Regions from separate parts of the Homo sapiens genome. Here region 2 is linked to region 1. Evidence: fine-mapped expression QTL. A gene starts in region 1. The other region holds a variant in brackets. All regions are shown on one strand. Distances are from middle to middle.

Evidence for each region. PIP is the estimated chance that this variant, and not a neighbour inherited with it, causes the effect.
Region 2: its variant is the best candidate, but not a certain one, in a credible set for the expression of TAMM41 in memory regulatory T cells (Schmiedel 2018, PIP 0.50).

The regions. Positions count from the first base shown.
Region 1 is chr3:11,844,447-11,848,806 of GRCh38, reverse strand. It overlaps TAMM41 (TAM41 mitochondrial translocator assembly and maintenance homolog), which reads left to right and starts at 1,922. Exons shown (of 8, transcript NM_001284401.2): 1 at 1,922-2,305. The coding sequence starts at 2,171.
Region 2 is chr3:11,783,747-11,788,138 of GRCh38, reverse strand. It overlaps a transcript of TAMM41 not described here. Among named protein-coding and RNA genes, the nearest start is that of TAMM41, 61 kb to the left of the region's middle. RefSeq lists an enhancer at 2,415-2,970. The variant G/AAATG (reference allele first, on the strand shown) is at 1,881.

The DNA.
Region 1 (4,360 bases):
CTGTTTCCTCGTATGAAAAATATCATCATCTTAGAGAACCTGCCTCATAGGATCTCTGGAGTGATGAAAAGAAACAAGTATAAAAAGCCTGGGTGCAGTGGCTCACGCCTGTAATTCCAGCACTTTGGGAGGCTGAGGTGGGCAAATCACTAGAGGTCAGGATTTCGAGACCAGCCTGGCCAACACAGTGAAACCCCATCTCTACTAAAAATACAACAATTAGCCAGGCATGCTTGCTTGAACCCAGGAGGCAGAGGTCACAGTGAGCTGAGATCGTGCCACTGCACTCCAGCCTGGGCAACAGAGCAAGACTCGGTCTCAAAAAAAAAACAAAAACAGAAAAGCCCCAAAGAAGTCTAAAAAGTGCCTGGGCATACTAAGTGCTTAATAATGACACCTATTATTAGTATTATTGTCACCGAGTCCTTTCAATTCTTTCTTGGTTGAATTTTCCCATCTATCTTCTACCTGATAAACTCCTACCCAGCTTCCAGGCCTGGCTCAAAATGCCATCATTGTGAAACCTCTTCTGGTCCCTTTCCCCAACACCCAGAACTGACTGACGTTCCCATTGGAGGGACATTACATTCCGGCACTGTGCTGGGTACCTGGCTGCATTACCCAAATTCTACTCTGATTTGCAGTTCTGTCTCCTCTCCTCTACAGACCCCTAGCTCCTGCAGGGCAGCAGGCAGCTCAGATCTCTTCATCTCAGTGCAGGCCCAGAGTGTGAGTGCAAGTAATCATTTTTCCAATTGATTTAATCCCATCCCTGCTCCTAAGACCTTGGCCTAGCCGTTTCCAGTTCATGGGGGAACTATGATAACAACTGTCTAATCAGTCCCCCACAATTCAGGCTAACATGTGAATTACATAAGTCCTTGCTCAAAACCCTTCAAGGACAGAGCAGAATTTCCGAAAAAATCCCAGAGTTGGAGCCAGACCTGGGTTTAGCTCTAGTTTTGCCACAGGCTGATGTGATCCTATCACCTGGCTTTACCTCTCTAAGCCTTAGCTTGGCCATCAGTAAAACCAAGGCCCTCCTGCCACAGGGCACTAGAGGGTGCTCAGTGAGAAGTGCATGTGAAAATGTGTCAACATTACCTGAATGTTAGCTATTACTATTTCTATTATTTTTGAGAGGTAGTGTATTTTGGGGAGGAAGGAGAGGGTAGTTGAAAAAGTTTCTGTCCTGGAAGTCAAACCACCTCCTGAATGGTAATCTTCAGCAAGTTTCTCCAGTTATACAAAGAGGAGAGCTGTAAGATTTTTCTACTCCTAGGGTCCTGTTTCCTCCAGAAACTGCATTTGAAGCACCCTTTGTGAGACCATTCCACAAGGCAAGGGGGCAAAAACTGTGATCCACCCTTGAAATTAAATGCAAGTATCAGAGAACGTCTGTGCACTCCCATATCCACCCTTGTATTTGAAAAGGGCTTTAGCGTGAAGAAGTCTCCGTCAAATCTTGACGGTGGTATTCTCTACATGGCGGGATTGGGCATCATTTTAATTTTGTGTTTTTCCAAATCTTCGAAATCTGCAATTTTGGAACTAGAGCGATGATGGGGGCACAATATTGTGAAGGCACTACATGCTACTACACTGTCCATTTCAGAACGGCTAGTTCCATATTATGTGAGTGTCGCCTCACTTAAAAACCTTCAATACGCTCCCGATTTTATAGTCATTCTTTAAACCGTAGTTTGAAGAGAGAAGTACAGAGGCTATCAAGGCTCAGGGCCCGCGGAGTCGGGTGACGCTCGCCTCCGCCGATTTGTCCAAGTCGCAACCTAGCCGCCAGCCTGTAGGGCACTCCTCCGACCACGAGGGGACAATGCAAAGCCTCGCGTTCCCCACACTAAGGCGAGCACCGCCTCTTGCGTCTTGGAAGCGCCTGTGCGTGCGTGGGGCGTAGCAAGGGACGGAAGCTCTGCCTGTGCGACCGCCGCCCACCCGAGCCTATCTGGGCTGCGTCTTCTCGCCGCTGCTCTTCGTGGCCCAACGCCCCAATCCTTGCGTGTGCTTGCAGTCCCACCCCACACTCAGCCTTGTGTCCCTCGATCCAGTCTCCGACTTCCATTTCCCACCCTAAACCGCCTACCCGGTGTCTGTTCCCCGCCCGGTTGTCCTCGCCCTGCTGCGCTGAGTGTCCCCTGTTAGCCTCGACCCCATGGCGCTGCAGACGCTGCAGAGCTCGTGGGTGACCTTCCGCAAGATCCTGTCTCACTTCCCCGAGGAGCTGAGTCTGGCTTTCGTCTACGGCTCCGGGGTGTACCGCCAGGCAGGGCCGAGTTCAGACCAGAAGGTGAGCCCGGGCAGCCCCACGACGGGGAACTGTCTGTTCTCACGAGTCCCGTTTTGCCCTCGATTCCTTCAGAGTCGGAGAGCTGCCTGTCCGCTCTGCACACTCCACGTGTCCACTAGCAGAGTGAACCATAGGCCTGCCTTCCTAGTATAACGACAGCGCGAGTTGAAGCGACGGTGTTGAAGGATACTTAGGAATCCACGTGGGTCTAGAGCAGGAGAAGCAGTTAGGCAGAAGGAAAAACTGCTGCAGGGGCAAATGGAAGAAAGGAAAAGAAATCGTTATCAGGTTCTTTCAGTGTTTTAGTCGGCTGGACATCGGAATTTTCTGGGGAGCTTTTAAGAAAATCCTAATGCTCGGCTTCCGCCGATGGAGATTCTGATTTAATTGGTTTGGGATGAGGCCTGGGCTTCAGGAATTTAAGAAACGTCCCAGGTGATTCTAATGCGCAGCCAAGTTTGTTGAGAGTCACCTCTATAAATGTAGGAGAAAATGCAAAATGATCTTCTGACTTCAGGAAGTTGGCGGACTGGTTGTAGGGCCAGGGCAGGTGCAGTGAAAGTAACTAACATCAAAAGTTAGTGCGTGACCAGTGTATTTACCCTCGCTCAGCACTTTTAACAACGGTCTGTTTGAGACTAGGCATTGTTACTTTTCAGAGTTGGCTCAGCACAGCCTCAGTAAGGGTACAGTTTTCCTTGTAATTTGCAGAATTCAGTGTGCAGGTTTTAATGGGGCCCCCTGCGTCTGGATACCTGACTGTAGTCTGTCTTCTGATTAACATCCTGCCTGTTCACTTCCTGGTGAGGCCATCTATGCTGTTGCTTGGATTTCCTCTGTTTCCCACTTACACTACTATTTAATATTTTTCTTTAAATTGGCAGCATATGAGAAATTATAGGTTATTATAGGCTAGTTATTTTTCCCGAATTTACCTTAACATAATTACACATTTTTAAAAAACATGTTTATTCCATACCTGCCTCGCCACCAAATCTCAAGTGTCCCCAGTGGTCTGTAGAGTCACACTCTACAGAGCAGGCGTTAGCCTCCTGATGGCCACCTCTTCATTCTTCCATGGAGGTTTTCCTTTGAATAGACCTGGAATTCCCTGCAAGAAAAGGTCCTTCCTTCCCATTCCCTCACTTTTGATTCCTTACATTCAAGTGAACAAGTTGTAGATTCCAACACCTACATCTTTCTCACATCAGTCCCCATCCTTAGCGCCTTAGCTAATATAATTTCATTTCTCCCCTGGAATCTTGCCATGGCTTCAGATCTAATTCCCCCACCCCCTTAGTCCCTCTTCTCTCCAGTCAGCTCTTCTGCAGGAAAATTTTCTAGCATGGCAAACAGCCTCCCTCTCTGATCTCATCTCCCACCGCATAAATGTGTTCTATTTCAGTCATATCTGACGGCAGCTTCCAGAACATGCTGGCTCCCATATCCACAGAGCACTTTCCTCCAACACGGCTCCCTACCCTTCCCTGTGCTTCCCCCAGTGCTTCCAGCAAGTCTGTTTAACTCACGTGTCCTTCAAGACTCAGATTTGTCATCTCTAGGAGAATTTCTCCCTCCTGTGCCCCTGATCTGATCCCTATGCTGAGTGCAGTTAGTACATTTTGCATTCCTCTATCAAGTCAATGTAGTGATAATTTGTTTATTCTCTCCAGTAGACTCTGAGCTCTATACTTCTACCCTAGGGCCTGTCAGAGTTCATTACTTATGTACTCAATAAGTGGTTGGTGAATAGGTAAGAGATAAAATAACTGACTTCCTTTTATATAGTATTTTGTAGAGTTTATCCAGGTGGTGCTAATTTGATCCAGAAGAAAAGCGGAGCACATTTAGCTACATTTGTGAAAGGCAGTGTAGTGCAGTGGTTCAGCACACACAGTTTGGAGCCAGACCTCTTAGGTCTGCCACTCACAAGCTCTGTGTCCTTGGGCAAAGAGCATCCCCTGTGCCTTGGTTTCTTATAAAATTGAGATAATAGCAGTAGCTACCTTGTAGGGTTGTGCTGAGGATAAATGGAGTGACTGCGTATGTTACCCA
Region 2 (4,392 bases), 61 kb after region 1:
GAATCAGGCCTCTGGAGAGGAAGTGACTGCCTGGGGTCCCAACATATGTGAGTAACATTGCTGGGGCTTGAACCCTGGCTTCCAGACTCCAGTGTAGTGCCTTTTCTCACACAGCCTGCAGTTTTCACAAATGATGAATACTTGTGTCTTTGTGTTCCACTGCCCCAGATGTATTCTTCCTTTTCCTCAATCTAAGGTGATTCATCAAAAAGCCATATAAGGAGGAGAGGTAAGACTTTCTCTGAGGGAAGTGGAACTCTTCGGGAGTAAGTAGCTCTTCTCATTCCAGAAGGCTCAAGAAATAAATGTACTTTGGTGTCACACCTGGAGTTGGTTCTCAACTCTTTCCAGCTGTGTCCTTGGTCAAGTTGCTTAACCCTTCTGAACCTTAGTTTCTATATCTATGATGTAGGTATTCTTATACCCATCTGTCAGGTTTGGTGTTAGAATTAAATGACATAACGTAAATTACCTAACGTGGTTCTTGGCACATCATGATAGTATCTCTGCTATCCAGTTCAGATGGTGAGTTTAGATGGCATGGGATAGTCCCTCATATATTAGTCAGTCTAGTCAAGAAAATGGAAACAACCCTAAGTATATCAAATAGAAGGAATTTAATATAGGGAATTTGTTAGAAAGATGTTGGGAGGCTGGGAAACAAAAAAGAAGGGGTATCCTGGAGGAGGAAGAAGGGATGACGTGGAGAGAATCTGCACATCAGGACGCTGCTAACATCCCTGGACTGGAACTTACAAGCCCACACCTGCTGCTGTGTTGCTGGAGATGCTCCCTGTAGCGGTTTCAAAATATGTTCACAAATTCTTTGGCCCACCTCCTAGCAGTAGCATTCATTTTCCCTCCTTGAATGTCGGTGGGCCTTAGTGACTTGCTTCTAACAGGTAGAATATAACAGATGAGATGCTCTATGACTTCCAAGGCTAGGTCCTAAAAGGTGACACAGCTTCCTTCCGGCTCTCTCTCAGGACACTTGGCTTGCAACCCAGCCGCCATGTTGTGAGGGTGCCCAAGCCACTGGGAGAGGCCACATGGAGGTGTTCTGGCTGATGTCCAACATCAATTGCCAGACAAGTGAGTGAGCAAGCCTTTAACTCCAGCCCCAGCCACTGTGACTATGACAGAACAAGAGAGCCCAAGCAGGACCTGCCTAGCCAAGCCCAGTCAGCTTTTGGAAGTGTGAGGGAGAATAAGAAAATGATCATTGTCATTTAAAGTCATTGAGTTGTCCAGGCGTGGTGGCTCACACGTGTAATCCCAGCACTTTGGGAGGCTGAGGTGGGAAAATCGCTTGAGCCCAGGAGTTCAAGACCAGCCCAGGCAACATAGTGAGACTTCCGCATCTCTACAAAAACTTTAAAATATGGTAGCACACACCTGTAGCCCCAGCTACTCAGGAGGTTGAGGTGGGAGGATTGCTTGAGCCTAGAAGGTTGAGGCTGCAGTGAGCTGTGATTGTGCCACTGCACAATCTAGTCAAGAAAAATGAAAACAACCCTAAGTATAATAAATAGAAGGGGCTGGCTGCAGTGGCTCACGCCTGTAATCCCAGCACTTTGGGAGGCTGAGGCGGGTGGATCACGAGGTCAGGAGTTCGAAACCAGCCTGGCCAACATGGTGAAACCCCATCTCTACTAAAAATACAAAAATTAGCCAGGTGTGGTGGCTCATGCCTGTAATCCCAGCTACTCAGGAGGCTGAGGCAGGAGAATTGCTTGAACCTGGGAGGTGGAGGTTGCGATGAGCCAAGATCGTGCCACTGTACTCCGGCCTAAGTGACAGAGCAAGATTCCATCTCAAAAAATAATAATAATAATAATAATAATAATAATAAAATTAAATAAATAAATAAATAAATAAAT[G/AAATG]GAACTTAATGTAGGGATTTTGTTACAAAGATGTTGGGAGGGCTGGCAAACAAAAAAGAAGGGGTACCCTGGAGAAGGAAGGATTACGTGCAGAGAAGCTGCACATCAGGAAGCTGCTAACAGCCCTGTATTGGAACCTACAAGCCCACACCAGCCTGGGCACCAGAGCGAGACTCTGTCTCTCAAAAAGATTAAAAAGTCATTAAGTTTTCAGAAGACTTGTACACAGTTCAGAAGACTTGTACACAGCATTAGATACTGTATACAAGTCCTCTGAAAACTTATGCCTTTGCCACTGCTAGAGCTGCCAGAGTCACCACCACTGCCCAGATGCCACTTGGGCCAGGCACGGTGGCTAACACCTGTAATCCCAGCACTTTGGGAGGCCAAGGTGGGTGGATTGCTTGAGCTCAGGAGTTTGAGGCCCGCCTGGACAACATAGTGAGACCTCATCTCTACAAAAAGTAAACAAAAAATTAGCTGGGAGCAGTGGTGCGCACCCGTGGTCCCAGCTACTTGGGAGGCAGAGATGGCAGAATCACCTGAACCCCGGGAGGTCAAGGCTGCAGTGAGCGGAGATCGTGGCACTGCACGCCAGCCTGGGTGAGAGAGCGAGACTCTGACTGAAAAAAACAGGCTGGGCACGGTGGCTCACACCTGTAATCCCAGCATTTTGGGAGGCCGAGGTAGGTGGATGACGAGGTCAAGAGATCAAGACCATCCTGGCCAACATGGTGAAACCCCATCTCTACTAAAAATACAAAACTTAGCTGGGCATGGTAGGGGGTGCCTGTAGTCCCATCTACTCAGGAGGCTGAGGCAGGAGAATCACTTGAACCCAGGAGGTGGAGGTTGCAGTGAGCCAAGATTGCGCCACTGCACTCCAGCCTGGTGACAGAGCAAGACTCCATCTCAAAACAAAACAAAACAAAAACAAAAACCAGATGCCACTTGACAACCACCAGTAACTGCTGCTGCAGTTGCAGACAAACCCAGGAACTTCTCTTCCTCCTATCTTCTGATCTGACACCACGGTCTCCAATCAGCAAAACCTAATAGAAAGCCAGCTGGTGAGAAACCTGGGCAACATAGTTTGCAGGCTCCTACCCAGCAGTAGAGAGTGGAGTACAGAGGAATGGCCGAGCTCACCAGAGAAACACCTCCCTGTGGTGACTGAGCATCCAGATCCACCCTTCAATCATATGTAAATTTCCATACACCAGCAGCAGCTTCCTGTTTCCACCCAACGTGATGCAGCTATCCTTTGTACAAAAGAAAATGCTCTCAAATTAGCCAGGGGTGGTGGCGGGCACCTGTAGTCCCAACTACTTGGGAGGCTGAGGCTGGAGAATCACTTGAACCCGGGAGGCGGAAGTTGCAGTGAGCCACGATTGCGCCACTGCACTCCACCCTGGGGGACAGAGCGAGACTCCTCCTCCTCAAAAAAAAAAAAAAAAAAAAAGAAAAGAAAAGAAGTGTTCTCACTTTTCTGGCAGGAAAGAGTAAACAAAGTCCCTACAGTTACTGTATTCATCTGTGGGTGATGTTAATGCCTCTTTTAATTAGAATCCCAACTGGATTTTGTATAATTTAGAAACTAGCCTATAACATTAACCACCACCCACTCTCCTCATAGAAAATAGTTGAAGGGAAGGGGTTAAAAATACCCGTGTGCCTGTCCGTGAGTATGTATATACACATTACCACGCAAGGAAGGAAATATGCCTACCTTTTTTGTTTTGGTTTTGGTTTCTTTTGTTTTTTGAGACAGAGTCTTGCTCTGTTGCCCAGGCTGGAGTGCAGTGGCACGATCTTGGCTCACTGCAACCTCCACCTCCCAGGTTCAAGTGATTCTCCCACCTCAGCCTCCTGAGTAGCTGGGATTACAGGCTCACACCACCACACCTGGCTAATTTTTTGTATTGTTAGTAGAGACAGGGTTTCACCATGTTGACCAGCTGGTCTCAAACTCCTGAACTCAAGTGATCTGCCCTCCTCGGCCTCCCAAAGTGCCAGAATTACAGGCATGAGCCACCACATCATTTTTTAAAAAGGTTATGATATCACAGTAGATACGGCATCTTTCTCCCTTTACTCATTCTGTGTTCCTGTTGCCCTCAGCCTGTACTTCATTTGGGCAGAGTTCCTTACCTGGTTGGGGCCCAAATCTCCACTACTGAAGAGCTGTCCCTATGGGTCCTGTCTGTATCGGGTTGTTGTAGTCTTTAACTTTTATTGAACATGGTTCCACATTTTACATTTTGAGTAATGAGAATTTGATAGTGCTTACTATTTGGAGCAATGTTTCTTGTATTAACTCATTCATCCTTACACAACCCAATAAGGCAAATACTATTATTCTAACTTTACAAATCAGGAAACAGGCTCAAAGAGGTTAAGTACCTTGCCTAAAGTCACACAGCTAGTTAAGTGGTAGAACCAGGATTCAAGCCCATGTTTGAATGGTCTGAATCCGGTCTCAGTGCTCTTAACCACTGCTCAGTCATCATGG